7 linked regions of the Homo sapiens genome follow. The protein of the gene in region 2 purifies or fractionates together with the protein of the main gene of each other region. This does not show direct contact. Each region holds a gene or a part of one and is shown on either strand. Other genes may lie near its edges. The genes, in order: CAMK2B, ANGPTL7, PCK1, HELZ, PALD1, TXNDC11 and ACSL1.

Region 1 (4,112 bases), on a different chromosome or scaffold from region 2:
GGCCGCCCCCTGCTGCTTCCTCCTCCCCGGCCTCCGGGTGGCCTTGCTGACGGCTCCTTCTCTGAGGCAGGTCTCTGCCTTCTCGCCTGGTGCCTGCACTCAGTAGCCCCCTCACCAGAGCTGCTGGGTGAAGGAAGCACTAAGAACCCAAGGCTCGGGAGGAGAGTGGGGCCGGGAAGCTGCAGGGAAGCGCAGGGCCAGGCCTGGTGGGCCCAGGGGCTGGCTCACGGGAGGGCAGGAGGGAGACTGTGGCGGACAGCACGTGGGGCCAGGAGGTGACCTCCAAGTGGATTGTGGGTGGGTTTTTTGTCCTCTTTCTGCATTTTCCAGGCATTTTGTAATGTGGATAGAATATTTCTGTTCTTCAAAAATACTTTAGTTAAGAAAAATAAGATGGAAGCTGTTGCACTTGAAAATGAGGAAGCCACTGGTGATGCAGGGGGGGCGGCGGAGAGGACCTCTTCTGCAAATAGCGGCAGGAACACGGCATGGATGCAGCTCGCGCTCCCCCAGGCCCTCCCCTGGGCTGTGTGGAGGGGTCCGGGGGGAATGGGCCAGCGCCCAGTGGTCACCTGGCCATGTCTCCCCACAGCCCGGAAGCAGGAGATCATTAAGACCACGGAGCAGCTCATCGAGGCCGTCAACAACGGTGACTTTGAGGCCTACGCGTGAGTCCCTGGGGCTGGGGGGGGGCTGTGCAGGACAAGGATGTGGGACCCTTGGGGGGGCCTGCTCAGAGTCAGGGGTCCACGGGGCCCCTCCTCACTTGGATTTGGCCCCCAGGAAAATCTGTGACCCAGGGCTGACCTCGTTTGAGCCTGAAGCACTGGGCAACCTGGTTGAAGGGATGGACTTCCACAGATTCTACTTCGAGAACCGTGAGTGAGGAAGCCCGGGTGGGCATGAGGGGGCGGTGCCCCCAGGAGAGCCTCTCGGCCCCTCCCAGGGACAGCATGGTGGCTGCCTATGGAAGCCCTGTCCCCTCTGTGCCCAGGGTTGGCCAGCCACCTCTCCCCCGCCAGAGGCCATACCCAGCCCCCAGAATCCCACTCTTGGAGGGGCCCATGCTGCTCCCAGGAGAGCCGAGCCTCCCCAATAAGGGGAGTTGAGAGAGGGAAAGGATTAGGCTGGTGGGGTGGAAGACGGGCACCAGGGCAGTCATGGTAACCCGAGACCCCCGCCCCGCCTGCTGTCCACAGTGCTGGCCAAGAACAGCAAGCCGATCCACACGACCATCCTGAACCCACACGTGCACGTCATTGGAGAGGATGCCGCCTGCATCGCTTACATCCGGCTCACGCAGTACATTGACGGGCAGGGCCGGCCCCGCACCAGCCAGTCTGAGGAGACCCGCGTGTGGCACCGCCGCGACGGCAAGTGGCAGAACGTGCACTTCCACTGCTCGGGCGCGCCTGTGGCCCCGCTGCAGTGAAGGTGAGTGTTCTGTGCTAAGTGACAGCTGGGGCAGAGGGGTGGCGGTGGTGTGAGTGGCTGCAGCCTGGGGAGGCGATGGGGAGCGGTGGGGCCTGTGCAGAGCCATGCCTGGGAAGTCCCTGAGCTTTCCTGGTGAGGCCACAGGAATGATGTCAAATTAGGGACCACGGCAGGCTGGGTGTGGCAGGCCTCCCCAGAGGACTGGGGAGCTGGTGAGGGCCTGAGCAGTCCACACTGGCCAGAGCTGGGTGGGTTGCAGGTGGATGGGCCCCGGGCAGCACAGTCCTGGGCACCATGCCCTGTTTGTGAGGACTGTTAGAGCCCCAGATGGGCGTTCCCCAGGTGGTGGGTGCAGCGGGCCCAGAGCCCAGTTTTACAGGGATAGTAGTAATTGGGTTGGGCACCTTGAACCTCTCTCCCGAGTGGGCCCTTTTCTGGACTTTAACCCTCTCTGCAGTGCCGCATGGCAGACAGCAGAGCCTGGGGGTGGATGGGAGAGGGGGCTGCTGAGGAGCTGACCCACCCGCCCCATTTCAGAGCTGCGCCCTGGTTTCGCCGGACAGAGTTGGTGTTTGGAGCCCGACTGCCCTCGGGCACACGGCCTGCCTGTCGCATGTTTGTGTCTGCCTCGTTCCCTCCCCTGGTGCCTGTGTCTGCAGAAAAACAAGACCAGATGTGATTTGTTAAAAAAAAACAAAAAAAAAAAAAAAAAAAACAAGATGACGACGACAACCACAAAAAAAATTGACATCAGATGAAATGAAAAAAAAAAAAAACAAAAAAAACTAAAGGAAGGAAAAAGCTGTAAAAATCACTGGCATTCGTGGGGCCACTCCCCACCCAAGCTCCACGTGTGTCCGTCTGTGCTCCTGGCCTCTGGGGGACCAGCTGGGACATGAACTTGTCTGCCAGGCCCCCGTCGCGTGCTGAACGGTGTTAGTTTGTAGGTAACGCACACACCCCACACCTAAGGTGTCTGCATCCTCCTGCCAACGCATGGGCTCCACGTGGTGTGCTCGCTGGCTGTCGTGACTGTCAGCTGTCTCTTGGGAGGGGCTGTGGGGGCCCGCTGGGCTGCCTCCTTTCCCGCTAGTTGTGCCTGAGAGTTGCTGTTGTTCCTGCTTTCCCTTCCCTTCCTTTCATCCCCTGAAGGGCTAGGTGTGGGTTTTCCGTGCCCGGTATCCCCACACACCCAGCACGGACAACCCTTCGGCAGAGCCCAGGCCGGCCCCTCACCCCCTGGAGTATTGAAACTGGAGTCCCGTCCCCAAGGCCTTCAGAGATGCCCCTACACACCCAGGGCTCCAGCTCTGGTCCTTCTGGGGGAGTAAAGTGCAAAGAGGGGCACAGCTTAGTTTTGGGCCTCTCGCCGAGCAAGAGACAGCACTGCTGGCTACAGCTCCAACACAGCCAGCTGTGGCAAGAGGACTCTGCCTGGGCTGGCCCCCCTCCTGTGTGAGGTGTCTGTCCCTTCTCTGCTGGCCAGCAGCAGATGCACTGGCAGCTCCCAACCCTGTTTCCGCCCCTCGGCCCTCCCCCAGCCTGTTCGGCTTCTCTGCAGCCCGCAAGGGGGAGCAGACTTTTGACAAAGGACTGCGGGCCTCGCTCAAGTCCCTGAGCCCCCAGCTGAAGCTGGGAGGGGAGGCCAGGCTTTGTGTCTGGGCATATTCGTCTGCTGATGGGGTTTGGGGAAGCCTGGGGCTTGGGGTTTGGTCGGGTGGTGCAGCTAGTGGCAGAGCGGGATCAGAGGTGGTGGCTGCCCAGCTTCTGGGCTGAGACAAGGGTCTGTGCAGGGGTTTACTGAAGTGGGAGTGCCTTTGGAATCTGGGCCGGGAGCAGAAGGGAGCAAAAGCTACAGTGGGAGCCAGCCTAGGGCACATGGGAGGCGTGAGGGCAGTGCTGCCCGTGCAGTGTCAGGTGTGCCAGTGCCTTGGCGGGCTGCAGTGCGTGTGAGGGCACCTTCTAGGTGGGCCAGGGATGCAGCTATGGAGATAAGGCGGGCTGGGGACAGAAACAGGTGGGCACAGGGCCCAGGACACCAGCGGATGGAGGGCAGGGTCTAGCCCTGTGCTCCTGAGCGTCGGCTGCCTGGGTTCGAGGCGGTGGGTCCCCGGCCCCTTGTGATGGTGTGTACCATGGGGGAGCTCGGGGACAGGGCAAGCCCGAGCATGGTGGGGCTGCAGGGTGGGTCTGAAGCCAGGTTGGGTGGGGGTGGTCACAAGCCCTGACTGCAGAGGGTCAGGGGCTCCTGCCCCAGTGCCTGCCCACTTTCAATTCACATTGTTTTCAACAAGGATTTTCTTTATCTTCCCCTACAAATCAAGCCAAGGGAGGGGCACAGAATGGGGAACAGGACACAGGATCCTAAACTCCAAGGGGACTGTCCACCGATGAACACTCAGAGTGGACACCATCTTCCGTCCACGCTGTGCCCAGGACAGCTGTCCCCATCCATGAACACAGGGTAAACATCTGCCGGGCTCCGCACCAGTGGCTCCCTGGGCCATGGGACAGCGGCAGGGCTCACCACGGACAGCACGTGGCCCAGCAGCCGGCCACCCTGGCGTCCTGGGGCCTCCTCCCCTCCTCTCCCTCTCACCTTGTCACCTCCACGGAGCTGCCTGTCTGGGATAATTTGGGGATTTTTTTTCTGGGGGATAATTCTTTTGCATGACCCC
Region 2 (4,739 bases):
AGCCAAAATACACCCCCTCTGGATCTCCCCATATCCACCTCTCCCAAATGCAGACACTGATGGGTAATTAACACCACTGAGAATCCCAGGGTAGAAATAAAGGCTCAGTCTCTAAACACTCAACTCAGATGGAGCCACTGGGTCTAAATGCTCACCCTGTGGTTTGTTCTCTTGTAGATGCCATCTACGACTGCTCTTCCCTCTACCAGAAGAACTACCGCATCTCTGGAGTGTATAAGCTTCCTCCTGATGACTTCCTGGGCAGCCCTGAACTGGAGGTGAGGTCATTACAGTCACTGGCCATGCCCTAATACCTGTCCTTCACCCCCTCAAGGGGACTACAACAACAGGGCCATTCACAGTTTAAAGAAAGGAAAATTCGGCTGGGCGCAGTGGCTCACACCTGTAATCCCAGCACTATGGGAGGCCGAGGCAGGTGGATCACTTCAGGTCAGGAGTTTAAGACCAGCCTGGCCAACATGGTGAAACCCTGTCTCTACTAAAAATACAAAAAAATTAGCCAGGCATGGTGGTGGGCACCTGTAATCCCTGCTACACAGGAGGATTGCTTGAACTCAGGAGGCAGAGGTTGCAGTGAGCCGAGATCACGCCACTGCACTATAATCTGGGAGACAAAGTGAGACTCCATTTCAATTAAAAAAAAAAAAAAAAAAAAGGAAAACTCAAACACAAGCAAACACACCAAACACCACAGAGCTATGCAAACACTCAGTTTATGCCCTGCACTCCAAACCCAGGCATCTGTTTGGCCCCTTCAAATCATTATCAGTCAAACAACAAGCCTTCTAACATAGATCAGATCATTCTTATAACCACCACATAACTTAGTTTAAATCTCTTGCCATGTCCTAGAACAGCTATTCCTTGGGGGAGGAGAAAAGAAAACACGAAGGCAGCATCAAATTATCTGGATTTTCACCCAGGCATGGTGGCTCACACCTGTAATCCCAAGTTTTTTGGGAGGTGAGGTGGGCGGAACAATCACCTGAGGTCAGGACTTTGAGACCAGCCTGGCCAACATGCTGAAACCCAGTCTCTACTAAAAATACAAAAATTAGCCCAGTGTGGTGACAGGCACTCTGGTCCCAGCTACTAGGAAGGCAGGAGAATCACTGGAACTCAGGAGGTGGAGGTTGCAGTGAGCCGAGATTGCACCACTGTACTCTAGCCTGGGCAACAAGAGTGAAATTCTGCTTCAAAAAAAAAAAAAGTATCTGGATTTTTCCCTCCAAGCTTCATGTGCACTCACCCCCGGGCCCAATTTGCATCGTTCTTCCAGAGCAATGCACCACCCACCCCAGCTCACCAGCAGTGGGGCAGCATCACTGCCCGAGTGAGCCAGTGTGACTGCGGGAGTGCACACATCTACTGGCTCTGCAGGGACAGGAACAGGTTGGGAAGCCTGCCCTCTTGCTCCTGCCTTCTGCCCCTGCAAGTCCCTCACCAGAGTATCCCCTCTGCTTCAGGTGTTCTGTGACATGGAGACTTCAGGCGGAGGCTGGACCATCATCCAGAGACGAAAAAGTGGCCTTGTCTCCTTCTACCGGGACTGGAAGCAGTACAAGCAGGGCTTTGGCAGCATCCGTGGGGACTTCTGGCTGGGGAACGAACACATCCACCGGCTCTCCAGACAGCCAACCCGGCTGCGTGTAGAGATGGAGGTAAGCACAAGGCCAGGGGCCCCATGACTGGACCAGTGCCACCACACATGACCGCGTACAACTCCGGGGGTGCCATTCCTATTCTGATTCAAGACAAATCTGTATATTCATTGTGATGGTTTTCCTGCAAGTTGTAATGGAGTTGAGGAAAAATAGGTATTTTTCCTTTCTGCAACCCCCCCAACCCCCCGACAAAAGTGGGGCTGCAGGTGGGACAGGAAGAGGCCAGACCCAGGCCAGAGTAGAGCAAATTCAACAGTCAGCTGTGCCGAACACTAGTCTCTGCTCTGGCCGAGCATGAGGTCCTTTAGGTGCAAATCTTACTGATACTGTTTGGGGACCCTTGCTGAAGGTCTGAAAGCACTCACTATATCCTCATGTTTCTCTTACAGCAGCTCTGTGTGGGATTCAGCAAAAACATAGCTGCACCTTATAAGCAGGAAAGTGAGGAATATAGAAAGAGAGACTAATCAAGGCCATATGGTGAATCAGGAAAGAAGTTCGAGCCTTGTTTTCTGATTCCCAGGTTAACACAGTAAACTGGAGGTAAACAAGTAATAAAGTCTTATTAGATTCACACCTATAAAAAGATGTTTGGCTATGGGACTGTCAGGAGAGAAGGGGTATAGAGACAGCATGAAATGGAGCCTGCTGCACTTTCTTTAAGGCTCTGCTCCTCCTGACAGGACTGGGAGGGCAACCTGCGCTACGCTGAGTATAGCCACTTTGTTTTGGGCAATGAACTCAACAGCTATCGCCTCTTCCTGGGGAACTACACTGGCAATGTGGGGAACGACGCCCTCCAGTATCATAACAACACAGCCTTCAGCACCAAGGACAAGGACAATGACAACTGCTTGGACAAGTGTGCACAGCTCCGCAAAGGTGAGATTTGGGGGGACCGGAAAGGAGAAGTTCAGGTACAAGCTCATAATCCCACTTGAGGAGAAAGAGTGAATTATAACTGTACAGTTGATATTCCGGTTTTGGTATTCTTTCTGACCCTGGCTCTAACTCCTTACCTGATGTCTGGTCTATCACAGTCAACTTACTAGCACTGGGTCTGTTTCTCATGCCAGGTGGCTACTGGTACAACTGCTGCACAGACTCCAACCTCAATGGAGTGTACTACCGCCTGGGTGAGCACAATAAGCACCTGGATGGCATCACCTGGTATGGCTGGCATGGATCTACCTACTCCCTCAAACGGGTGGAGATGAAAATCCGCCCAGAAGACTTCAAGCCTTAAAAGGAGGCTGCCGTGGAGCACGGATACAGAAACTGAGACACGTGGAGACTGGATGAGGGCAGATGAGGACAGGAAGAGAGTGTTAGAAAGGGTAGGACTGAGAAACAGCCTATAATCTCCAAAGAAAGAATAAGTCTCCAAGGAGCACAAAAAAATCATATGTACCAAGGATGTTACAGTAAACAGGATGAACTATTTAAACCCACTGGGTCCTGCCACATCCTTCTCAAGGTGGTAGACTGAGTGGGGTCTCTCTGCCCAAGATCCCTGACATAGCAGTAGCTTGTCTTTTCCACATGATTTGTCTGTGAAAGAAAATAATTTTGAGATCGTTTTATCTATTTTCTCTACGGCTTAGGCTATGTGAGGGCAAAACACAAATCCCTTTGCTAAAAAGAACCATATTATTTTGATTCTCAAAGGATAGGCCTTTGAGTGTTAGAGAAAGGAGTGAAGGAGGCAGGTGGGAAATGGTATTTCTATTTTTAAATCCAGTGAAATTATCTTGAGTCTACACATTATTTTTAAAACACAAAAATTGTTCGGCTGGAACTGACCCAGGCTGGACTTGCGGGGAGGAAACTCCAGGGCACTGCATCTGGCGATCAGACTCTGAGCACTGCCCCTGCTCGCCTTGGTCATGTACAGCACTGAAAGGAATGAAGCACCAGCAGGAGGTGGACAGAGTCTCTCATGGATGCCGGCACAAAACTGCCTTAAAATATTCATAGTTAATACAGGTATATCTATTTTTATTTACTTTGTAAGAAACAAGCTCAAGGAGCTTCCTTTTAAATTTTGTCTGTAGGAAATGGTTGAAAACTGAAGGTAGATGGTGTTATAGTTAATAATAAATGCTGTAAATAAGCATCTCACTTTGTAAAAATAAAATATTGTGGTTTTGTTTTAAACATTCAACGTTTCTTTTCCTTCTACAATAAACACTTTCAAAATGTGAGTATCTTCTTTTTAAATTCTTACCATTACCACTTACAGCAGGATAAAAAGTTAAAGTTAAATCAGAGGGTGAGCAGTGACAGAGGCCCGGGGTTTGTTTTGGTGTTCAGGGCAACCAAGCGGGGAGCAGAAGCCAAAAGGGAACAGGTAAGGGACAAAAGGGCAGCAACCAGGACAATTCTTCATAAAGGGGATTACACGTCTGGGGCTGGGCAGTGAAGGCATCCAGCCTTATCAGACCCTCTATTCTACTTAGGATAGAGAAGCAAAAACAGGCCAGCAGACCTTACCCTAATGCTCGGGGCTAACCAAGTAAAAGTGGTGTGTGTGCGCTTTCTAACAAATAACCACTCAATCCTCTGTCCCCAAGAAAGCAAATATATTTACTGATATGTGAGCTTTAAGGAGATGGGGGTAGTTTATACTATCTCAGTGTTAGCCCTGATTTGGGATTACATCTCGGATTTAATTTGCCCTGTAGCAGATAGGTTAAAAAAGTCAATAGGTTGCAAGACGGATTGAACTAGTAGCAAGAGAACAATACTGTCAACAGAACACAGTTTTTTAAAGCAAAGACAAAAAAATAAGAAATAGCTGCACGCGGTGGCTCACGCCTGTAATCCCAGCACTTTAGGAGGCCGAGGCGGGTGGATCACGAGGTCAAGAGAGTGAGACCATCCTGGCCAACATGGTGAAACCCCTTTCTACTAAAAATACAAAAATTAGCTGGGCATGGTGGCATGCGCCTGTAGTCCCAGCTACTTAGGAAGCTGAGGCAGGAGAATCGCTTGCATCTAGGAGGTGGAGGTTGCAGTGAGCCAAGATTGTGCCACTGCACTCCAGCCTGGAGA
Region 3 (2,868 bases), on a different chromosome or scaffold from region 2:
ACCAGGCAATGCACCCCCTCTTCAAGTGTGATTCTGAACGTCCCCACCTTCTTGGGGAGGGGGCAGGATTTAAATCACAAGATATTTAATCAGAGTTCTCTCCTCTTGGTAGCTCAAATAAGAAAAACCAAGCAAAGCAAATCCATCTTTTCTATAAAACTTCATTTTGTAATTTTTTTCCAAGAAGTAGTAAGGGGGAAATATTGCAATTATGTAAAGGTAAGGAACAATGGTGTATAAAAATAATTTAAGCACAATATTAATAACAAAGCAACTTTTTTTCAAGGAAAACTAGTAGGTCATCTTGCCCAAGATTTTTCCAAAGGTATTAAATATATTTTCAATAACAGTACATACAAATACACATACACAAATATACCACACAGACACATGTGCACATACATGCACACACACACACACACACACACACACACACACACATATATATATACAGCTCAAGTATTTTTTTGGTGTGCATTCTAGCTAATCCACATAGCTAAAGTGAAAAAACACTGAAAAGATCAATGCCTGAGTAACCTTAAATTTGAACAAACTATGCATTGGATGTGAATTTTTGGAGGCATGCTAAGATTTCCCTTCTCAATTTCATTAGCTACTACCCAGTGTTCTGTGGTTCTTATCCTTAAAAAAATCAAAGTGTGCCTTTCAGATCTGCTCACGGTGTGGTGATGATTATTATGGTGGCGTCAATTTGGGAACACTTGCCCTCTCTTGCTCCTACTGCACCTTATGGATGGGAAAGGGAATGATTTTAAAGGTAAAGCACTCAGGCCCTGATTACATCTGGCTTATTCTTTGCTTCAAGGCAAGGATCTCTCTCTCGATTTCACAGGGGAGGTCGGCATTGACTTGATCCTCCAGATACTTCTCGATGTCTTCCACCTCCTTCTCCCAGAATTCCTTGGAGATGCTGAAAAGCTCCATCATGTTGATGTGCCCCAGGCCTTTCAGGTTCAGGGCATCCTCCTTGGGGATGTAGCCTATGGGCGTGAGCTTGGTGCTGGCTTTTCCATCGATCCGGTTGAACATCCACTCCAGCACCCTGGAGTTCTCTCCAAAGCCTGGCCAGAGGAATTTGCCTTCCTTGTCCTTCCGGAACCAGTTGACATGGAAGATCTTGGGCAGTTTGGCTGCTGGGTGCTGGGCCATGCTAAGCCAGTGGGCCAGGTATTTGCCGAAGTTGTAGCCAAAGAAGGGCCGCATGGCAAAGGGGTCATGCATGATGATTTTGCCTGTTAAACAGAGAGGGAGTTCATTAGTAAATGAGGCTCTCCTAGGCAAGACTGACGCCATTGATTGTTGACATTAGCATGCTTTGTTCTCCTCTCTCTCTTTCTCTCTCTCTCTCTCCCCACACACAGACACAGAAAAGGAGAGAGACATAAGAGTGACGAAGAGTGCTCTAATCCCACTTCTCTGTGGTTTCAGATCAGGACTTTGATTTACCTTTATGTTCTGCAGCCGCTGTGGCCTCTGATCTCATGGCCGCCCCCACAAAGACTCCATGTTGCCAGCTGAGAGCTTCATAGACTAGAGGGACACCTTTAGCAGGAAAAAAAAAGAGAAATGTTCATCAGAGGCTTTGAAATTCAGACTCCACAACCAGTGGTGTTATTCACAACACGGAAAGACACGGCAAGACAATAACTTTGTAATCGAGCTAGTTTTGCGTTCACCAAGCTAAATTGCAGAAAACTGCTAACTCAAAGTTACATGACTGAGGCCACAAAGTAAAAAGTAAAATTTGATCAAGCTACAATAGATCAGGGATTCAGAAAGGTTCCAGGTGACCAGAAGGGTTGGTTCTACATTTGAACTTGCCAATTATTCTGGATCTTTGGGAAGGAAGCTCAAGAAAGGAAGCCCCTGGGCACCCTCTGACAAGGTCATGGAAAAGGAGAGATTTCACAGATGCCCTTCGGTACCCAGCACACCCATGTTCCCAGCCTAAATGAAGGAGAGCCTCACCAGCAGGTCTACGGCCTCCAAAGATAATGCCTTCAATGGGAACACCTTCCGGAGACTCCCAGGCAGCATCAATGATGGGGCACTGGCTGGCAGGGGTGCAGAACCTCGAGTTGGGGTGGGCACAAGGTTCCCCTATAAGACAGAGAAAGGCTCGTGAGTGCCTGGCTCAAACAGGCAGTCCCTGCAGCCCGGCACACCAAGGCCTCTGGCAGGGACACACCATCCTCTGAGCTCCACTCCTTATTCTTCCAGGACGTGATGGTGACACCTGAAGCTAGCGGCTCATCAATGCCTTCCCAGTAAACGCCCCCGTCGCTGGTCTCGGCCACATTGGTAAAGATTGTGTTCTTCTGGATGGTCTTGATGGCATTGGGGTTGGTCTTCACTGAAGTCCCAGGAGCGACACCGAAAAAGCCATTTTCTGGGTTGATGGCCCTTAAATGACCTGGAGAGTTTTAAACCAGAGAAGCAGTAGTGAGTGCCAGGCAAAGCAGAACATATACTCTTATATATTGCCGGACTAATTTCTATGCCAACTTCTCAAATCTTTTTTCCCTCCCTAGAATATGCATTTATCTCTTTTCATCCAAGCATCATATGCAACTTTGATACGTTTACGACTCTTGCTTCCTCCACAATTTTCCACCAATACCATTTAAACAAATGTATGTATGTAAACAAACAGCAACATATGGCCCAGTTTCAATCCAGATTGAATATTAAGTTGAAGAATTCTTACAGGATCCATATTTCTAAGGCTTGGCCAACTCTGGACTAACAGAGTTTAAAAATCCAAACACTGGACTGAGGAGAATGTGACATGTTTCGAAGGCCAACGATTCGCTTGAGTCCAATCGTTACCAAGAGTTGGGTCTAAAA
Region 4 (4,112 bases), on a different chromosome or scaffold from region 2:
TATACATATATGTGTGTATATATACATATATGTGTGTATAGATATGTGTGTATATATGTATATATGTGTATATATGTGTGTATCTATGTATATAGATAGATAGATTTTTTTTCTTTTTTTTTTTTTTTGAGACAGAGTTTCACTCTTGTTGCCCAGGCTGGAGTGCAATGACGCGATCTCAGCTCACTGCAACCTCTACCTTCCAGGTTCAAGCAATTCTCCTGCCTCAGCTTCCCGAGTAGGGATTACAGGCTTACGCCACCACACCCGGCTAATTTTGTATTTTTAGTAGAGAGAGGGTTTCACCATGTTGGTCAGGCTGGTCTCGAGCTCCTGACCTCAGGTGATCTGCCCGCCTTGGCCTCCCAAAGTGCTGGGATTACAAGCGTGAGCCACCATGCCTGGCCTTATCTTTTTTCTTGAAGCCTACAGATAATTTTGTGGAAAGGAGCCAGTGGTCTGCTTTTTGACTGTGGAGATGTTTGTTTGTAGTCTAAAATGGAATACTTAGAAGTAGGTAATCTTGTGTGGCTAGTGTTGTTTGACCTGAATTGTGTCAAGACATTTTCCACAGTTCTCACACATGTAGACTCTGTGAAGTGTTAGTATTCATTTCAAAGCGAAGTTAGTGGTTGGCCACTGAACAACTTGTTACACAAAGTATTCTAAAATGGGAAATGCCATAGTATTGAAGGTTGTGGTGAGGTAGAAGTCTGTGTCTCTGAGCTGAATAAAGACAGAGCTTTTTTAGTCTGTCCTTTTGGCTGGGAAGCTAGGACACTATTTTTAGGTAAGGCTGTAGTTTTTGGGAGTAAGTACCTTTCTATTAGCTGGTAAACTTGATTATTGCATTTGTTAACAAGAAGTTTTATTTTCTAATGCCATAGATATTAAAATGCATTGTCTTAAAGTTGGTATATATTTATAGACTGTCCAGTTTTCACTGGAAGAGGAGTGATGCCAAAACAACAGGAAAAGTCATTTTTACTTGCAAAGGGCCTCGTGTAATTAAAAAATCTACAGCATATTCATGAAAGGCTAAGAATAGTGCAGAGGGACCTACAAGTAAGTAGCCCAGATCTTACAGATGCATGTGTTCTCTATTTAAGCAGTAGGCTTGGCATTAATATTGAATGTAGATTAGTCTATAATTGTCTGTCAGAGACCCTAAGATCCAAATACAGGCCCCATACAAGAAATAAGGACCTTTGCCTGTTGTTTCAAATGTATAGAAGATTTCGGGCCAGGTGTATCAACAACAGTTATCCAAGAGATGGGGAGGAACTACTTAAAAAATTATAAGCAAATTTTTAGGTTTAATTTTCATAAACTTAGGTGAATATACATGCAGATGTAATTGGATTTCTAAGTAATGTTTTGAAATGTTTTCTAGAAGAAAAGTGATACAAGTGGAGAGTATGCCATACTATCTTACCATTCATTTCAGTTGATGAGTGCAGTCAGGGTTACTTCTGTAGCATTGGCTAGAAGCAGCATATAACATGATGGTTTATTGCTTTGAGGGTGGCTGGGATAATAGTTTTCAGTAATCTTGAATCTGTTAGAAGTGAATATTCCTCTTTTTAAAAGACCACTGTAGATGTAACAGGAAGAATTTTATTTATATATACATGTAATAACTATTTTGGTCAACTTTTAATTATTCAAAAGAAATGGAAAGTTTTTCAACTAATACCAACAGTCATACCAACTTGTTTACTTTTGTGAATTGTACTGGGTCAGTTTCTCCAAGTAAGAGCAGGAAGTTGTTTGGTAAAGCAGAGTGTATACATATATCTTGTCTTTGAACAAAAAAGAACTTGATTCATCGTCAGGTTCTTCAAAGAATGCATGGCATCTTTGTTGACTGAACTATTCTGAAGTGTGAATGTTTGTGATTTTTGTCATTTCTGTGCTATATTTTAGGTGTTCTTGTCACATCTGAATTTGCCTTTTTGCTTCCTTCTGCAGAAATTATCTTTGTTGTGATGAAAATGTCCTATAATGCGAGCTTCCTGTCAGTAGGCAACGTGTTTAACTAATACAGTTTTAAAAAATTATTTACTTTTATGCAAAACTCCTGTATGCTTATGGTAAACAAATTTGAGCAGTACTTATGTAAAGTAAAAAAGGTTAAAAAAAAGAAAAGCCTCTGTTCTTCTTCTGTCTCTAGTCCTGCTCCCTTGAGCTGAATCTGGCAAACAGCTGGGTGTCATTTAGCTTTTGGAAGACCTCTCTATTCCTGAGATATTCTGGCAGTGTGGAAGTAGAGTGAGAAGTCAGAAAAGGCATGGTCATTGAACCAGAGTTTGGATGTTGTGCAGGGACTATTCTGTTCTTATTTTCTGTGATAAGTAATAATGATAAACTACCATCAGCTTAAGATAACTGTAATTTGAATTGTGAAACATGAAAACAGTTAGTTCTTTAGTCAGGTTGGTAAAGTTTTGATTTGTTGATCTTTTAAAAGAAATATGCATGAATTGAATTCATGTAATGTTAGGGCTGGTGGGGGTTAATGGTAGTAATGAATTACCATCTGTTGAATTTTAGGATAAGCTGCACAGTATATTTACTATAGGCTTTTTATAACTCATCATCTCCTTTAATTCTCATAGCAACTCACGAGATAGTTATTTCCATTTTACAAAGGAAGAAATTCAGGCTTAAGTGTGACTCAACTAATGTAACGTCACGAGACCAGTAAAGTAGTGGAGCTGGTGTTCTTCCTGGAAAGCCTGTGCTCTTCTTTCTCTAGCTAGTCTAAGTGACTTATTTTCCAGATAAGGAAATATAGGCCTGAAGAAATTAAATGAGTTGCTCAAGGTCACACAGCTCAGTAGTAGCAACATTAAACCAAGCTTGTTTTTAATCTTTGGAGGCTTATCTCAAGACTCTTGGTCTAGTGCTGGTCATGCTACATTTTATTGAACTAGTGTGGACCAAAAGACCATATGCTGGGAATATTGGATACAAATGCTTTGGAACTGATATCTTGGTGAATGGTGTTTTCTACTATGTATTAAAAAAACTTTCTTCTTTGTCTTTCAGAAATTATAAAGAGCTCTGATGGGCTATTTGGGTGATACCCAGTGCAGTGAACTGCAGGTGAGTAAGGTTTAGAACTTTATTTAGAAAACAAGAATTTTATAATGCCTGAAAGAATAAGGTGGGACAAGGGTGAAGTGATACAGGGCTGTAGTGAAACAGTGGTAACCTGAAGGCACAGATCCTAACGGAATCGGTTACTTCTGGAACAGACTGAATGATGAACAAGCTCCGAAGAGACTGCCTGCTGCCTTGTCAGGTTAGTGTGTGAAATGAGTGAGGGTAGGTTAATCTTCCACTTCTGTTCAGATGAGTAACTGCATAGGGGCTCAGCTTATCTGCGTGCTATTGGAACTTGAGAGGTCCTTCAGTTTTTGTGTCAGCATTCTTGAGTGGCGATTACTTTGTGCTCCAGTGAACTTGGTTAAGTATTGAATTGTTTTTCCTGTTATCTGCTATTTACATAGTGTCATGAATGACTGTATATATCTGCAGTTTTGAGGATCTAAATATGGAGAACATATCAATAGAAACAAAAGGTTGAACTTTTTTTCCTAGTGGTTGTACTACCTCTATTGATACTATTAGTCTTTCAGATTATTTACTTTTTGCTGAAATACCTGTTAATTAAAAACAGTTTAGTCTTGAGTATTTATTATTTCACAGTAATTAATCTTCTTGGTCAGCTATGGTGTCTTCGTCTTTCATTATTACACTTAGAAAATGGTAATACTACAGAAATAAATTAGAAGGCTTTTAATACTTTCCTTATGAGGCATCAGAGTTAAAATTATTATTATTTTTTTGAGACGGAGTTTCGCTTTTGTCACCTAGGCTGGAGTGCAATGAATGGCACGATCTCGGCTCACTGCAACCTCCGCCTCCTGGGTTCAAGCAATTCTCCTGCCTCAGCCTCCTGAGTAGCTGGGATTACAGGCGCCCGCCACCATGCCCAGCTACTTTTTGTATTTTTAGTAGAGCCAGGGCTTTACCATGTTGGCCAGGCTGGCCTCAAACCCCTGACCTCAGGTGATCCACTCGCTTCGGCCTCCCAAAGTGTCAGG
Region 5 (3,796 bases), on a different chromosome or scaffold from region 2:
AGAGCTGCCACCTTGGCACCTCTAGGTCAGAAGAGAGGCCTCCTTCCCTCCTTGGCAAAGCGGCCTGTAATTACTCCTCTGCCAGGAAGCTGGCCCCTCCAGACCTCACCAGCAGATCCTGGCAGTTCTAATCTGGACTGGAGGCTGGAATTAGCTCCTGGGAAGTGGGTGGGTGGAGAGCAGGGGCCGGTGACCTGGCCAGAGTGGGCACAGGAAGGGTATGGGGGCTGAGGCAGGTGTGAAGTGGACTCAGGGCTATGAAGGAGTGGAGGCAGAGTGGCAGGCTTTGAGGGTGGGCCTTGGGACGTCAGGTGGAGAAGCATTTGAAATGCCCCCGGTGCATGTGATGTGTGTTGAGTCGGGAGACCTGATGGGGTCACACCAAGGCCATGTCGGGGTGCCTTCTTGAGCAGGCCTGGGCTCAGCTTCCTCTGCGAGCCCCTGGGGAGGGGTGGAGGTGGAAGGGGATGAGGACACTTCCTGCTTGGGTTCTGCTTGGAGAGCAGAAGTTGGGGGAGCCTGGGGCCGAGAGGAAGCTTGATCCCCTCCCCAGCTGAATCCCCCACTGGGGCTGGGGGAGGTCAAGAAAGGAGGGCTGCCGGTCCAGGCAGAAGTGTGGGTTCCAGCCTCGGGACCTCAGCCCCTCTCTCCTGCGGATGAGTGGAGGGTAGCAGTGAGGGAGGCCCCAGAGCGGGACGGACCCATTCCTTTGTTCTAAGTGGAGGCTGCACCCTCCCCTTCCCCAGGATGGTGGAGAGAGAAGGGGACTGGTTGTGGATGGTTTGAGTCTGGTGCCAGGGTCTGGGCTGCTGGGCGGCAGGGCTGAGTGTCCAGGGGTGCCTCCAGCTAGCCCACCTGGGGCAGAGGCCATAGCCTTACCTGCCCCTGCATCCACGTTCTTCCTCCAGCCCTCCCTTTAGGCCCTGCTCCTGGGCGTCCACGTGGGAGCATCGAGCTGCACAGGGCCCAGTGTGTGCCTGGCCTCCCTCGCTGCTATCTGTGTGGAGCACTCACTGTCTGCCCAGTACTTTCTGTATGTGTAGAGTCCTCCTTGAGACAGTCCTGTGAGGTAGAGTCTTTTCCTTGCTATGAGGAAACTGACGCTCAGAGAAGTTAACAGAAGTCAAGGTGCAAACTTGTTCAGGTCACCAAGTTCACAGGCCACAGACTCATCTTCAGAACTCAGTGGCCTTAGTGGCACCCTCCCTCCCCTGAAACACTGCTCCTGCCTCTGCTCTCCTCCCAGGTGGCATCGAAGGCTGGCATCTACGAGATCCTTAACGAGCTGGGCTTCCCCGAGCTGGAGAGCGGGGAGGACCAGCCCTTCTCCAGGCTGCGCTACCGGTGGCAGGAGCAGAGCTGCAGCCTCGAGCCCTCTGCCCCCGAGGACTTGCTGTAGGGGGCCTTACTCCCTGTCCCCCCACCCACAGGGCCCCACGCAGGCCTGGGGTGTCTGAGGTGCTCTTGGCTGGGAGCGGCCCTGAGGGGTGCTGGCCTTGAAATGATTCCCCCACTTCCTGGAGAGACTGAGCGGAGTTGGGAGCCTTTTTAGAAAGAACTTTTTATAGGACAGGGAGACAGCACAGCCATCCCTTGCAAACCACCAAGGTGTGTGGCTGACCTCCAGGGAGGAGCACTCACTGGAGTGCTCACAAGGTGCACACTGCTGTGTGTACCTTGCAGACAGGCCGGCGTTCAGCCTCCAAGGGGCTCACTCCCCCAGTTGCCAAACACTGTGGATCTCTCTGTCCTCTTCTCCCCTCTCTCAGATTGGCCTGGCAGCCCCTGGCACAGAGCAGACCCGGCCACTGGTAGCTCCCCACTTCCTTACTCCTGCTGCTCTGCCATTGCCGCTCCCCTTGTTGCTGCCCAAGCACTGCCCTCGGGCGTCTGGCAGCCTGAGGTGGGTGGAGGGGACAGTGTTCTGGATAGATCTATTATGTGAAAGGCAGCTTCACCCAGTTTTCTGGACTCTCATGCCCCCATCTCCGACCTGGGAGACTTCAGGAATGACAACCTACCCAGCCTGGTGGGGCTGGCAGGATGGTGGAGGTTTCTCAAGGAGCTGGAGACTTCAGGGAGCCCCTCTCATGGGGAGGAAAGAGCTTCCAGGGGGCGAACGCAGCACAGAGGAAGAGGCCTGCTCCACTTGTCTGGGAACCTGGGCAGGAGGCACAGAGGAAGCCAAGGCCTGGAGCTGCAGGTCCCCCGGCATCTCTCTCTGTCCCGGCAGCCCAGGATGGCCTGGTGCCCCCACCTGCTGCAGCAGGAGCCCCAAGGAGTGCTAGCTGAGGGTGGTTGCTGGGGTGGTCCTCATGGACAGTGAGGTGTGCAAGGGTGCACTGAGGGTGGTGGGAGGGGATCACCTGGGTTCCAGGCCATCCTTGCTGAGCATCTTTGAGCCTGCCTTCCGGTGGGAGCAGAAAAGGCCAGACCCTGCTGAGTTAGAGGCTGCTGGGATCCACTGTTTCCACACAGCGGGAAGGCTGCTGGGAACAGGTGGCAGAGAAGTGCCATGTTTGCGTTGAGCCTTGCAGCTCTTCCAGCTGGGGACTGGTGCTTGCTGAAACCCAGGAGCTGAACAGTGAGGAGGCTGTCCACCTTGCTTGGCTCACTGGGACCAGGAAAGCCTGTCTTTGGTTAGGCTCGTGTACTTCTGCAGGAAAAAAAAAAAAGGATGTGTCATTGGTCATGATATTTGAAAAGGGGAGGAGGCCGAAGTTGTTCCCATTTATCCAGTATTGGAAAATATTTGACCCCCTTGGCTGAATTCTTTTGCAGAACTACTGTGTGTCTGTTCACTACCTTTTCAGGTTTATTGTTTTTATTTTTGCATGAATTAAGACGTTTTAATTTCTTTGCAGACAAGGTCTAGATGCGGAGTCAGAGATGGGACTGAATGGGGAGGGATCCTTTGTGTTCTCATGGTTGGCTCTGACTTTCAGCTGTGTTGGGACCACTGGCTGATCACATCACCTCTCTGCCTCAGTTTCCCCATCTGTAAAATGGGAGAATAATACTTGCCTACCTACCTCACAGGGGTGTTGTGAGGATTCATTTGTGATTTTTTTTTTTTTTGTACAGAGCTTTTAAGCATTAAAAACAGCTAAATGTGAGTGCACCTGGCTGCTAATATGTCTTTAGTGTCAGACAGACGTTCTAGAACTGGTACAACAGGCTGAGGTCCCTGCCCCTTCAGAGTAAGGGTGGGCAGGCAGAGTGAGTTGAGAGCACCTGTTCTTGGCACTTCCAGCTCTAGAGCAGGCGGGTTTTTGCAGACACGCATCCCCAGTTTTGCCTCACCCTCTTACACTGGATGTCAGGCTGAGCTCCTCCTTGAAGAAAGCAACGGAACCAGCGAATTCTCACTAACATATGAAGGATTGCTGCATCTAGGGAAACAGTATAGAGCAAAGTGGAATTGGGGGCCTGTGAAGGAGCCTGGATCTCAGCCTCCACTTTCTCCCCTAACCCCTGTGGGCCCCACCTGACCCCTTTGGGCCTCTGGTTGATTGAACACACCTCACCCCTGGTTGAGTGCTGGCATTTAAAGAGTCAGTGGGGAGGGTGGGGTAGAGACAGCACTGACTCCAGGCCTCTTCCCCCATGCTTGCAGGGTTAGGGGAACAAGGTTGTAGTTCCGAGGTCAGCTGGGGTGGGCAGAATGGAACCCAGAGCCCCCACCGCCCCTAGGGTTGGTGTTCTCCCCAGACTAGGAGAGAAGGCCCCGGGGGTTCTTTCCCAGCCCAGCAGGGTATGGAAGTTGTCTTCTCTAGGTGCAAGAATGCTCTGTGTG
Region 6 (4,112 bases), on a different chromosome or scaffold from region 2:
TGGAGATAAGTGGCTTTTGTGGAGAGCCAGGCTGCAGAAAAAGGAGGATGAAGTCTTTGGGATGTGGGGAGCAGGAATATGGATTATTCAGAGACATCCTTCTCTGCTCTCCACTGCCCTTCCAGCCTACACCTAGGGGACAGAATCTCAGAGAATTGTTTCCAACGTATTATTCATGTCTTGCATTTGCTCAGCCAGATGTTGCCTTTCTAGGGCAGTGATTTTGGGACTCCATTTTCTTATTCAAAAGAGGATTTTCCTTTTAAGCTTCATTCTACTTCCACAGAGCTATTTTTAGAAGAAGATAAACTAAGCAATCTTTTCTGTGTTTGCTCTTTTTTAGTCGAGCAAAAGATGTGATAATACCAGCAAAGCCACCTGTCAGCTTTTTCTCCTTGAGGTCTCCAGTCCTTGACCTCTTCCAGGGGCAGCTGGATTATGCAGAGTACGTTCGACGGGATTCAGAGGTGGTACTGCTCTTCTTCTATGCCCCTTGGTGTGGACAGTCCATCGCTGCCAGGGCAGAAATTGAGCAAGCAGCAAGTCGGCTTTCAGATCAGGTAATGCTCACATTCAGCTTAAGAATCAAATGACTGTCAGTCCTATATGTAGGGCAGGATGTCCCCACAGAGACACCTTGCCCAACGGGCAGACTTTGCCAAGGTGAACTCCAGGAGTCGTTTCTAAGTTACAGAGCTTTCTATAAAGCAACAGAAAGGATTTCCAATTGTGGCGATTGTACTCCAAGGCAAGTGTGGGAGCAGATTCTGAATCTCATAACACAAGCCAATGCTTATCCTGGGGTGCCATACTGTTTGGTTTCAGCATTGAAAAAGGTAGAGGGACTGAAAATCCTAGTTCTTGCATATCCATTTGATACTTGCTAGTTAGGTATTTTAGGTAAGAAAATGTATGTATGATATGACTGCATTGTAACAAGGCCGACCTTTTTAATATATGGACCAGAACTATATTCAGCAGATAAGGAATGCCACCTTTGGGCTAGGTAAGAAAGATATATAGGCAAATAAGTCACCTGTTATGGCAGTGGTTTTCAGCCCAGTGGACCCCAGTTGTGCTTTAGAAAATAAGTATTTTATGATGTCCCTTTTTCTTCCTAAAAAGGAATTCATAGATGATAAAGTTTTCCTATACATGTAATTTCAAAATAATCTAATGCACGGATTGTAACATAGAGGTGAGGGGGGAAGAAAGTAATTTGTAACTAAATGATATATATTTTAGTATGTAAGTGCACAGTCAGAACAGGTCCATATACCTTTATGTAGAATCACTGAATGGGATAGTTACAAACGTAGACTGATAAAGGTGATATGTTGGTGACTTACCTGCCACATGGACATTGCTCTTAGTAATTGATTATCCTAAATGGTGAACAGTCTTGGTAAAATCCTGAACTATGCAAAGCCCTTTCTGCTCTCAGTTTACATAGAAGTTGCATTCCTGAAAAATTCAGTGAACACAAAAAGCATGCTTTAGATTCACATGTAAAATGGAGCTAGGTACTGGGCTTTGATAATAACAGGTTTTCCCCAACATCAGTGTTTGGCAGGCGTTTTGAACTCCTCTGGAATGCTATGGACGACTCTTCCGTGTGCAAAGCAGGTTTGAGTGTAGCAGGACATCTACCAACACCCCTGCCCTACGTATGCACTGTAGCTTCCCCCAGTCATTGTAGCAAGCCAAAAGCATCCCACAGATTTCTAAGACTCTCCTGCTCAGAACCACTGATGTGAAGTAACGTGTGTAGGCAGCTGAGTTCCAGAAGTTCATTTGGAACTGTCATTTGGTTTTTCTTAGAAACTGTGGAGCCTTCCAAATTTAGAGAACAAAGTTCACGTTGCCCATGTTGGGCACAAGAGGGATATCTATTGTGTTTTATTAATAAGTGTGAATTAGCTACCTTACTGTCAGCCTAAGCAGTATGTCCTTCTGAGTGATGGCATTAGTATAATAATAATGATATTCTGGTGTGCCAGGCCCCATGCCAATTCTCAACCACTTTGCAAGGCGATGCTGTCAGCCCTGTTTTTCTGAAGCAGGACTGCAGGCATAAGGGGTGAAGCAGTTTGTTTACCATCACGTAGTGGTGGGGGTTGTAGTGCAATCCAGGGACTGCTGCTTTTTTTAAAAAAAAAATTTCAGCTCCTTCCAAATTGAGAGCTTACTATTCCATGTACTCAGTAGGGAAAAAAGTGGGTTTATTTTTGGAAACACACAGAAATCTTTTGAACTGTATTGCATGGTAAGATTGGTAAACACGGTCCAAGTCCTGCCTGGACATCATAGATAAGAGTATGTCTTTCTTTTTTGTTTTAGTGATAAATTATGACCTTTGAAAACTCAAAACAGTTTTTTTCATAGTTTCTGTTTCAGTGAGAGAGGAATCATTCTATTTTTAAATTTCATCTTTTAAATCTTGGTAACTTTTCAGTTGTTATTCATAGTCATTTGAAAACCTTTTTTGGCTCTGCAGGTGTTGTTTGTGGCAATTAACTGTTGGTGGAACCAGGGGAAATGCAGAAAACAGAAACACTTCTTTTATTTTCCTGTAATATATCTGTATCATCGGAGGTAAGAACTTTTTAAATAGCGTCTCTCATTCCAGTTTAGTTTGCCAGTTTATAAATGAATTTTGCATTTTTTCTATATTAAAGTATTAGATATTCACTATAGAAAATTCAGATAATACAGATAAGCAAAAATTAAAAAAGAAAGATCTGGATAATCCACCCCCCTTTTTAAAGCTAAACATGGGATCAGGCAGTAATACTATTTCCTAAACTGCTTTTCTCACTTTTTTGAGCATCTTTTCATGTCATTACACATTTTACAGCATTGTTTTTAAAAGTACGAATTACTCCAATGCATTTCAGATATCGTAAGAGTGTTTTGTAAAAATACACAAAATTTCTTATCGTTTCATCTGGAGGCATAGCAGAGTCCAGAGTGTATCTTACCATCTATTCTATTGGGAAGAAAATTACTACAAGTACACAGTCCCATGTCCACAATTCTTTTTTTTTTTTGAGACGGAGTCTCACTCTGTTGCCCAGGCTGGAGTGCAGTGGCGCGATCTCCGCTCACTGCAAGCTCGGCCTCCCGGATTCACGCCATTCTCCTGCCTCAGCCTCCCAAGTAGTTGGGACTACAGGCACCCACCTCCCTGCCCAGCTAATTTTTTTTGTATTTTTAGTAGAGACAGGGTTTTACCGCCCATGTCCACAATTCTAAAGTCACAAAGAGGGCTGAAAAACGGAAAGAGTTTTATTTTATCTTATTTTATTTTATTTTATTTTGAGACAGAGTTTAGCTTTTGTTGCCCAGGCTGGAGTGCAGTGGTGCAATCTCGGCTCACTGCAGCCTCCGCCTCAGGGTTCAAGCCGTTCTCCTGCCTCAGCCTCCCGAGTAGCTGGGATTACAGGTGCCTGCCACCACGCCCGGCTAATTTTTGTATTCTTAGTAGAGACGGGGTTTTACCATGTTGCCAGGCTGGTCTCGACCTAGGCTGTACTAGAGTACAGCCCAGACCCTGCTGTGAATGATAAGTAATGTCTAAAAATCTGACTCAAAGAGTTTTGGAGATAGGAGATAGGACTTTGGACTTTGTTCAGGGTGATTGGCTTGAAGTTTGTTGAAAGTAAAATGGGTAAAGGAGATTTGATCAGTAGAGAGCTTTCCTTTTTCCTTCTAAAGTTCTTGGGCCATAATCAATGGGGATTTATAGCAAACATGCACAAACAGTGATTTGTGGGTTCTCTGTCACATTCCATCCCATTTCCGTGTCTGTAACATAAACTGTTGTCTGGCACATAGTATTGACTCCCAGGAACTATTAGGTAGTATTTGGGCAAAAACACACTTTTCTACCCCATCTCTACCCCCACATTTTCCTCTGGATATTAGATGTTTGTATTTTAATATTTGTAGTAAGAAGCCAGTTTTTGCTTAGGGACCACTAAGACCATTTTCAGATTTCTTCCCCACTTTTTGGCCAGTAACTTGGAGGTTCTGCCTTTACATGGAAGGTTCAAGTACAGGTTTTTTCGGATACAGGAATACTTTCTCAGAGTTACTGTTTTTGTTTTAAA
Region 7 (4,112 bases), on a different chromosome or scaffold from region 2:
CTCTTTCTTTCTCTTTCCAAAGGCAATCTCAGTTACACCCTCCCAGTAGCATCTGTAGCTACCTTGGCCGATGGTGGGCTTTCTTATCTCTGGGTCAGTCCCTGTCTGATAATTATTGCTAATTATCTTTTAACATATTTGCCTCAATTCTTCAGGCGGATTTTAATTTATCTTTCTTTCTCTCTTTCTCTCCTTTCCTTTCCTTCCTTTTTTCTTTTCTTTCTCAATCTCTCCTCTTTCTCTCTCTGTCCTCTCATCTTTCTTTCTCTCTCTCTCTTTCCTTCCTTCCCTCCCTCCCTCCCTCTCTTTGTACATGCATACATACATACATACAGGATCTCACTCTGTCACCCAGGCTGGAGTGCACTGGTGTGATCACAGCTCACTGCAGCCTCAACCTCCTGGGTTCAAGCAATCCTCCCGCCTCAGCCTCTCAAGTAGCTGCGACATGGTGTGTGCCACCATGTCCAGATAACTTTTGTAGAGGCAGGGTTTTGCCATGTTTCCCAGGCTGGTCTTGAACTCCTGGGCTCAACTGATTCCCCCAACCTTGGCCTCCCAAAGTGCTGGGATCACTGGTGTGAGTCAGTGTGCCTGGCCTTAATTTCTTTTTAAGAAGGGGGCATGTGTTTTGTTCTCATTCTGAATCCCTTATAGCACCTGGCACAGAGTAGTAGCTAACACAGATGTTAATTTTGCTGCGTCAAATGTTTTCACTTTGAATCTCTCTTGAGTATTGTTCTCCTTATTGATTACATGATGACATCCTGTTTTCTCTCCCTGACCTTTACTGTTTGTTTAGTGGGTGATTATTGAACAAGGATGCTTTGCTTATTCGATGGTGATCGTTCCACTTTATGATACCCTTGGAAATGAAGCCATCACGTACATAGTCAACAAAGGTACGTCTGTGATCTTTGCCTGGATTATTGGCATAGTTATTGGTTAGGTTCAGTGACTTTACATTTGCTTACATTTGATTTGACAAAGATTTTACATGTAAATATATATCTACCTTTTTATTCAAAGAATGTAGTACTTCAAGTATCCTTGTGCTGGATATGACAGAGTGAATCTTTTAACATCCCAGAGCTTATTCTTCATTGTATCTCTTCATTTACAGCTGAACTCTCTCTGGTTTTTGTTGACAAGCCAGAGAAGGCCAAACTCTTATTAGAGGGTGTAGAAAATAAGTTAATACCAGGCCTTAAAATCATAGTTGTCATGGATGCCTACGGCAGTGAACTGGTGGAACGAGGCCAGAGGTGTGGGGTGGAAGTCACCAGCATGAAGGCGATGGAGGTGAGTGCCCTGCCTCCTTCCCTTCTCTGAAGGCTTTCCCTGGGGCCGTGTTGGCTCACACGTGCTATCCAGTGCTATCTAGTGCTATGGTGCAGTCCCAGCGCTGGCCGGTTGCCTCCGCAACCCATGAAAGAGAGCAGAAACTTCTGTCTCATTGCTGGAAAAAGGATTCTACATGTGTGCCCAGTGTTAACACCTCACACCTTACCCAAGTGCTTTCAGCACTCCAATATTTATTCCAGAGCACTGACAAGCTGTGCCCGGAAATGCCAGAAATGGGAATTACAGCTTCAGGCAGGTGGAACTTTCAGTTTCTGTGTCTCCTTTGGGCTTTAATGCCTTTTACTTACTAATTTGTCTCTAATGCCAAGCCAAGTATAGAAATCAGCCTCATCGTTCTTTTCCCTGGATGGCTCGTGGAGAGTCTTGGTGAATTTCCAACATGCATGTTTGATTTGGTTTGTTTTCATATTGACTCTTAAGAGTCATACCAATCACAAGTTTAAAGGCAGCCATTCCAGGAGAATGAGCGTGGTGGTCCATGCTCAGCTTGGGTGCTTGATGTCAGATGATATAAGAAGTTGATCCCCGTCAGTTGGACTTGGATTAGAGTTCCATCCAAGGAACATGGCCGGAGGAAGATCTTTTCATATACATATCATAACAAGTCATAGGAAAACAGAGTCAGTCCTTCTCTTTCTGAAGGTGTTAGAAATATTTTTCTGAAACTGTTATAGATAGGATTTTAAATTTTTATGTGTAGTTTTCCTCCTCCTACAAAGAATTTGAGGCTATAAGTAAGGATCTGTAGAACCTTTCCTGAGGAACCCAGTAGGCACAGGGAAGCGCGGGTGTTCTAACAGAACCTTCTCTCTTGTGCATGTGTGCGCCCCTGCCCAACTCTCTCTCTCAGTAGCATCGAACGTGATTCCGCAAGTGCTGACCCGGGTGCTTCCTTGTTGAATTGGGGTTTTATAGCTTCTTACCTAGTGTTTCCCCACTTCTGTTTTTTTACTTTTAACCCTCTTTTACTATAATGTAATCTCTTTTTCCCTTACCTTCCCACAGATGCAAGAATTTTTCTGGTGTTTTTTGACTGCTGTATGATAAAGAAGTAATGTTGAAATTTAAAAATTATTTAGTTGATTGAAGATTATAATATAAAGTTTATATTAAAATATTAATTTATAGAAGACATTGTTTTACACTTACCTGTTTAATATGATCTGTACTTAGTTTTTAAAAATATTCTGAGCAAAAGGTGAAGAGATCGCCCCACTGCACTGCAGCCTGGGTGACAGAGCGAGACTCCATCTCAAAAAATAATAATAATTGCAGTATTTTTCCTAAGTGATACTGTAAGAGAGATGTAAGGCTGTGAAACTTTTGCGGCAACAGTGCACTAATTTGGATAATGTTTGTTCCCAATAAATTAAGAGCCAAATTGTATGTAACTGGTGCTTTATTTTATTTAACATCAGTTTTTGAAGAATTGGGCATCTCCAGAAGTTATGTAAGAATTTTTAATAGACAAATAGAAATCTGGAGCTAATAAAGGTTATTTTGAAAAAAATGTACAGAATTATTGCTTTAGCTTTTGGCTGACCTCTAATTGGATATATTAGTTCCTGTTCTTAATCGGTGGTCTGTCACTACATCATTTAAAATGTAATTAAGATTGAAAACTTAATGTATGCTGGGCAGAAACTCACTAAGCCCTGAGCACACCCATCTAATTTCCACGTGAATTGAACATGTTCAATGGCGTGTTCAATGGCATGTTCATTCCATATCCTCATTCAAGCTGTTCCATTTGAATAGGAAAAGAATATAAATAGTTCATTTGTTAAAATTAATAGATATTAAAGTGGCCACCAAGACTGCCCTAATGCAGTAAACCGAACCCCATCAGTGGTAGTGACTGGAAGCCTGCCGCTGGGAAATGCTGTCCCCGCGCAATGCTTCTGTCATTCTTAACCTTCAAGTCCATTCAGGAAGGAGTCTTAGAGGGTCTGCTGTGGCCTGTTTTATAATTGGGGGCTCCCAAATCCTATCTCCACTCTACGAGGGGAGATATTTGAGCAGATATTTGAGCCTCTCCAAAATGCCTAGCATTTCAATCGAGCAGAGATTGATTTTTCTTCTTCCCAGATTGCAGATGTCAGTTGTGCAGAATGTGGGGGTGAGGTAGTGCTGTGCTCTGATTTGAGGAACCTACGAAGTATCTGCAGTATCTCGTTATGGTTAAGAACAGGGCTTTATTAAAGGCCCTAATAAGAAGTGGAAGTGGGGACCAGAAATGCATGGTAAAGACTTTGGCTGCTGTTTTTTTAATACATCCTATTTCAAAGACCAGTCCTAATACCGTTTATGTAGTTTTATGTAAGAGAAGAGGTAACTGGAAAATGGCTTCTCAGAACAATGAATAAATATTTTGGTTCTGGTTAATTAAAACTGCCATAGTTTCTTTAATTAGAAAATTATGCTGTTTTCGAGCCAGGTGTGAATGAACCCCACAGTAAAGCCAGCTTTAAGTGACTCGATGTGACCTTATCCTTTACAGTTAGAAAACGTTTCCATTTAAGACTTTTTTTCTCTTCTAATTAAGGACCTGGGAAGAGCCAACAGACGGAAGCCCAAGGTAAGCACACCGTGTCAGACCCTGCTCTGTCCTCTTTGTAGTTTTCAATATCTAGCCTGGTACCTTGTGGCTTATAGTTCTCTTTTCTGTTCTGATTTATACCAGCTTTTTTTTTTTTTAATCTTTAGCCTCCAGCACCTGAAGATCTTGCAGTAATTTGTTTCACAAG

What was found.
Region 1: the proteins of ANGPTL7 (region 2) and CAMK2B purify together in Homo sapiens (affinity purification with mass spectrometry; one large-scale study listed by BioGRID and IntAct). This does not show direct contact.
Region 3: the proteins of ANGPTL7 (region 2) and PCK1 purify together in Homo sapiens (affinity purification with mass spectrometry; one large-scale study listed by BioGRID and IntAct). This does not show direct contact.
Region 4: the proteins of ANGPTL7 (region 2) and HELZ purify together in Homo sapiens (affinity purification with mass spectrometry; one large-scale study listed by BioGRID and IntAct). This does not show direct contact.
Region 5: the proteins of ANGPTL7 (region 2) and PALD1 purify together in Homo sapiens (affinity purification with mass spectrometry; one large-scale study listed by BioGRID and IntAct). This does not show direct contact.
Region 6: the proteins of ANGPTL7 (region 2) and TXNDC11 purify together in Homo sapiens (affinity purification with mass spectrometry; 2 studies listed by BioGRID and IntAct, with this or other methods). This does not show direct contact.
Region 7: the proteins of ANGPTL7 (region 2) and ACSL1 purify together in Homo sapiens (co-immunoprecipitation; one large-scale study listed by IntAct). This does not show direct contact.

The regions. Positions count from the first base shown.
Region 1 is NC_000007.14:44,217,382-44,221,493, reverse strand, and holds part of CAMK2B (calcium/calmodulin-dependent protein kinase type II subunit beta), read left to right. Parts: intron 1-592; coding exon 593-668; coding exon of another isoform or gene 669-672; intron 673-783; coding exon 784-878; intron 879-1,199; coding exon 1,200-1,432; 3' UTR 1,433-1,434; intron 1,435-1,971; 3' UTR 1,972-4,112. UniProt on the Homo sapiens protein: Calcium/calmodulin-dependent protein kinase that functions autonomously after Ca(2+)/calmodulin-binding and autophosphorylation, and is involved in dendritic spine and synapse formation, neuronal plasticity and regulation of sarcoplasmic reticulum Ca(2+) transport in skeletal muscle.
Region 2 is NC_000001.11:11,192,093-11,196,831, forward strand, and holds the end of ANGPTL7 (angiopoietin-related protein 7 precursor), read left to right. Parts: intron 1-177; coding exon 178-278; intron 279-1,487; coding exon 1,488-1,682; intron 1,683-2,074; coding exon of another isoform or gene 2,075-2,152; exon of another isoform or gene 2,153-2,317; intron 2,318-2,368; coding exon 2,369-2,567; intron 2,568-2,761; coding exon 2,762-2,931; 3' UTR 2,932-3,889; downstream 3,890-4,739. UniProt on the Homo sapiens protein: Has a role in the formation and organization of the extracellular matrix.
Region 3 is NC_000020.11:57,563,735-57,566,602, reverse strand, and holds part of PCK1 (phosphoenolpyruvate carboxykinase, cytosolic [GTP]), read right to left. Parts: intron 2,435-2,868; coding exon 2,210-2,434; intron 2,122-2,209; coding exon 1,990-2,121; intron 1,564-1,989; coding exon 1,468-1,563; intron 1,254-1,467; coding exon 799-1,253; 3' UTR 1-798. UniProt on the Homo sapiens protein: Cytosolic phosphoenolpyruvate carboxykinase that catalyzes the reversible decarboxylation and phosphorylation of oxaloacetate (OAA) and acts as the rate-limiting enzyme in gluconeogenesis.
Region 4 is NC_000017.11:67,238,429-67,242,540, reverse strand, and holds part of HELZ (probable helicase with zinc finger domain), read left to right. Parts: intron 1-3,051; 5' UTR 3,052-3,108; intron 3,109-4,112. UniProt on the Homo sapiens protein: May act as a helicase that plays a role in RNA metabolism in multiple tissues and organs within the developing embryo.
Region 5 is NC_000010.11:70,565,335-70,569,130, forward strand, and holds the end of PALD1 (paladin), read left to right. Parts: intron 1-1,246; coding exon 1,247-1,399; 3' UTR 1,400-3,116; downstream 3,117-3,796.
Region 6 is NC_000016.10:11,732,465-11,736,576, reverse strand, and holds part of TXNDC11 (thioredoxin domain-containing protein 11), read left to right. Parts: intron 1-343; coding exon 344-560; intron 561-2,497; coding exon 2,498-2,595; intron 2,596-4,112. UniProt on the Homo sapiens protein: May act as a redox regulator involved in DUOX proteins folding. The interaction with DUOX1 and DUOX2 suggest that it belongs to a multiprotein complex constituting the thyroid H(2)O(2) generating system.
Region 7 is NC_000004.12:184,773,674-184,777,785, reverse strand, and holds part of ACSL1 (long-chain-fatty-acid--CoA ligase 1), read left to right. Parts: intron 1-802; coding exon 803-902; intron 903-1,123; coding exon 1,124-1,302; intron 1,303-2,370; exon of another isoform or gene 2,371-2,416; intron 2,417-3,910; coding exon 3,911-3,943; intron 3,944-4,071; coding exon 4,072-4,112. UniProt on the Homo sapiens protein: Catalyzes the conversion of long-chain fatty acids to their active form acyl-CoAs for both synthesis of cellular lipids, and degradation via beta-oxidation. Preferentially uses palmitoleate, oleate and linoleate.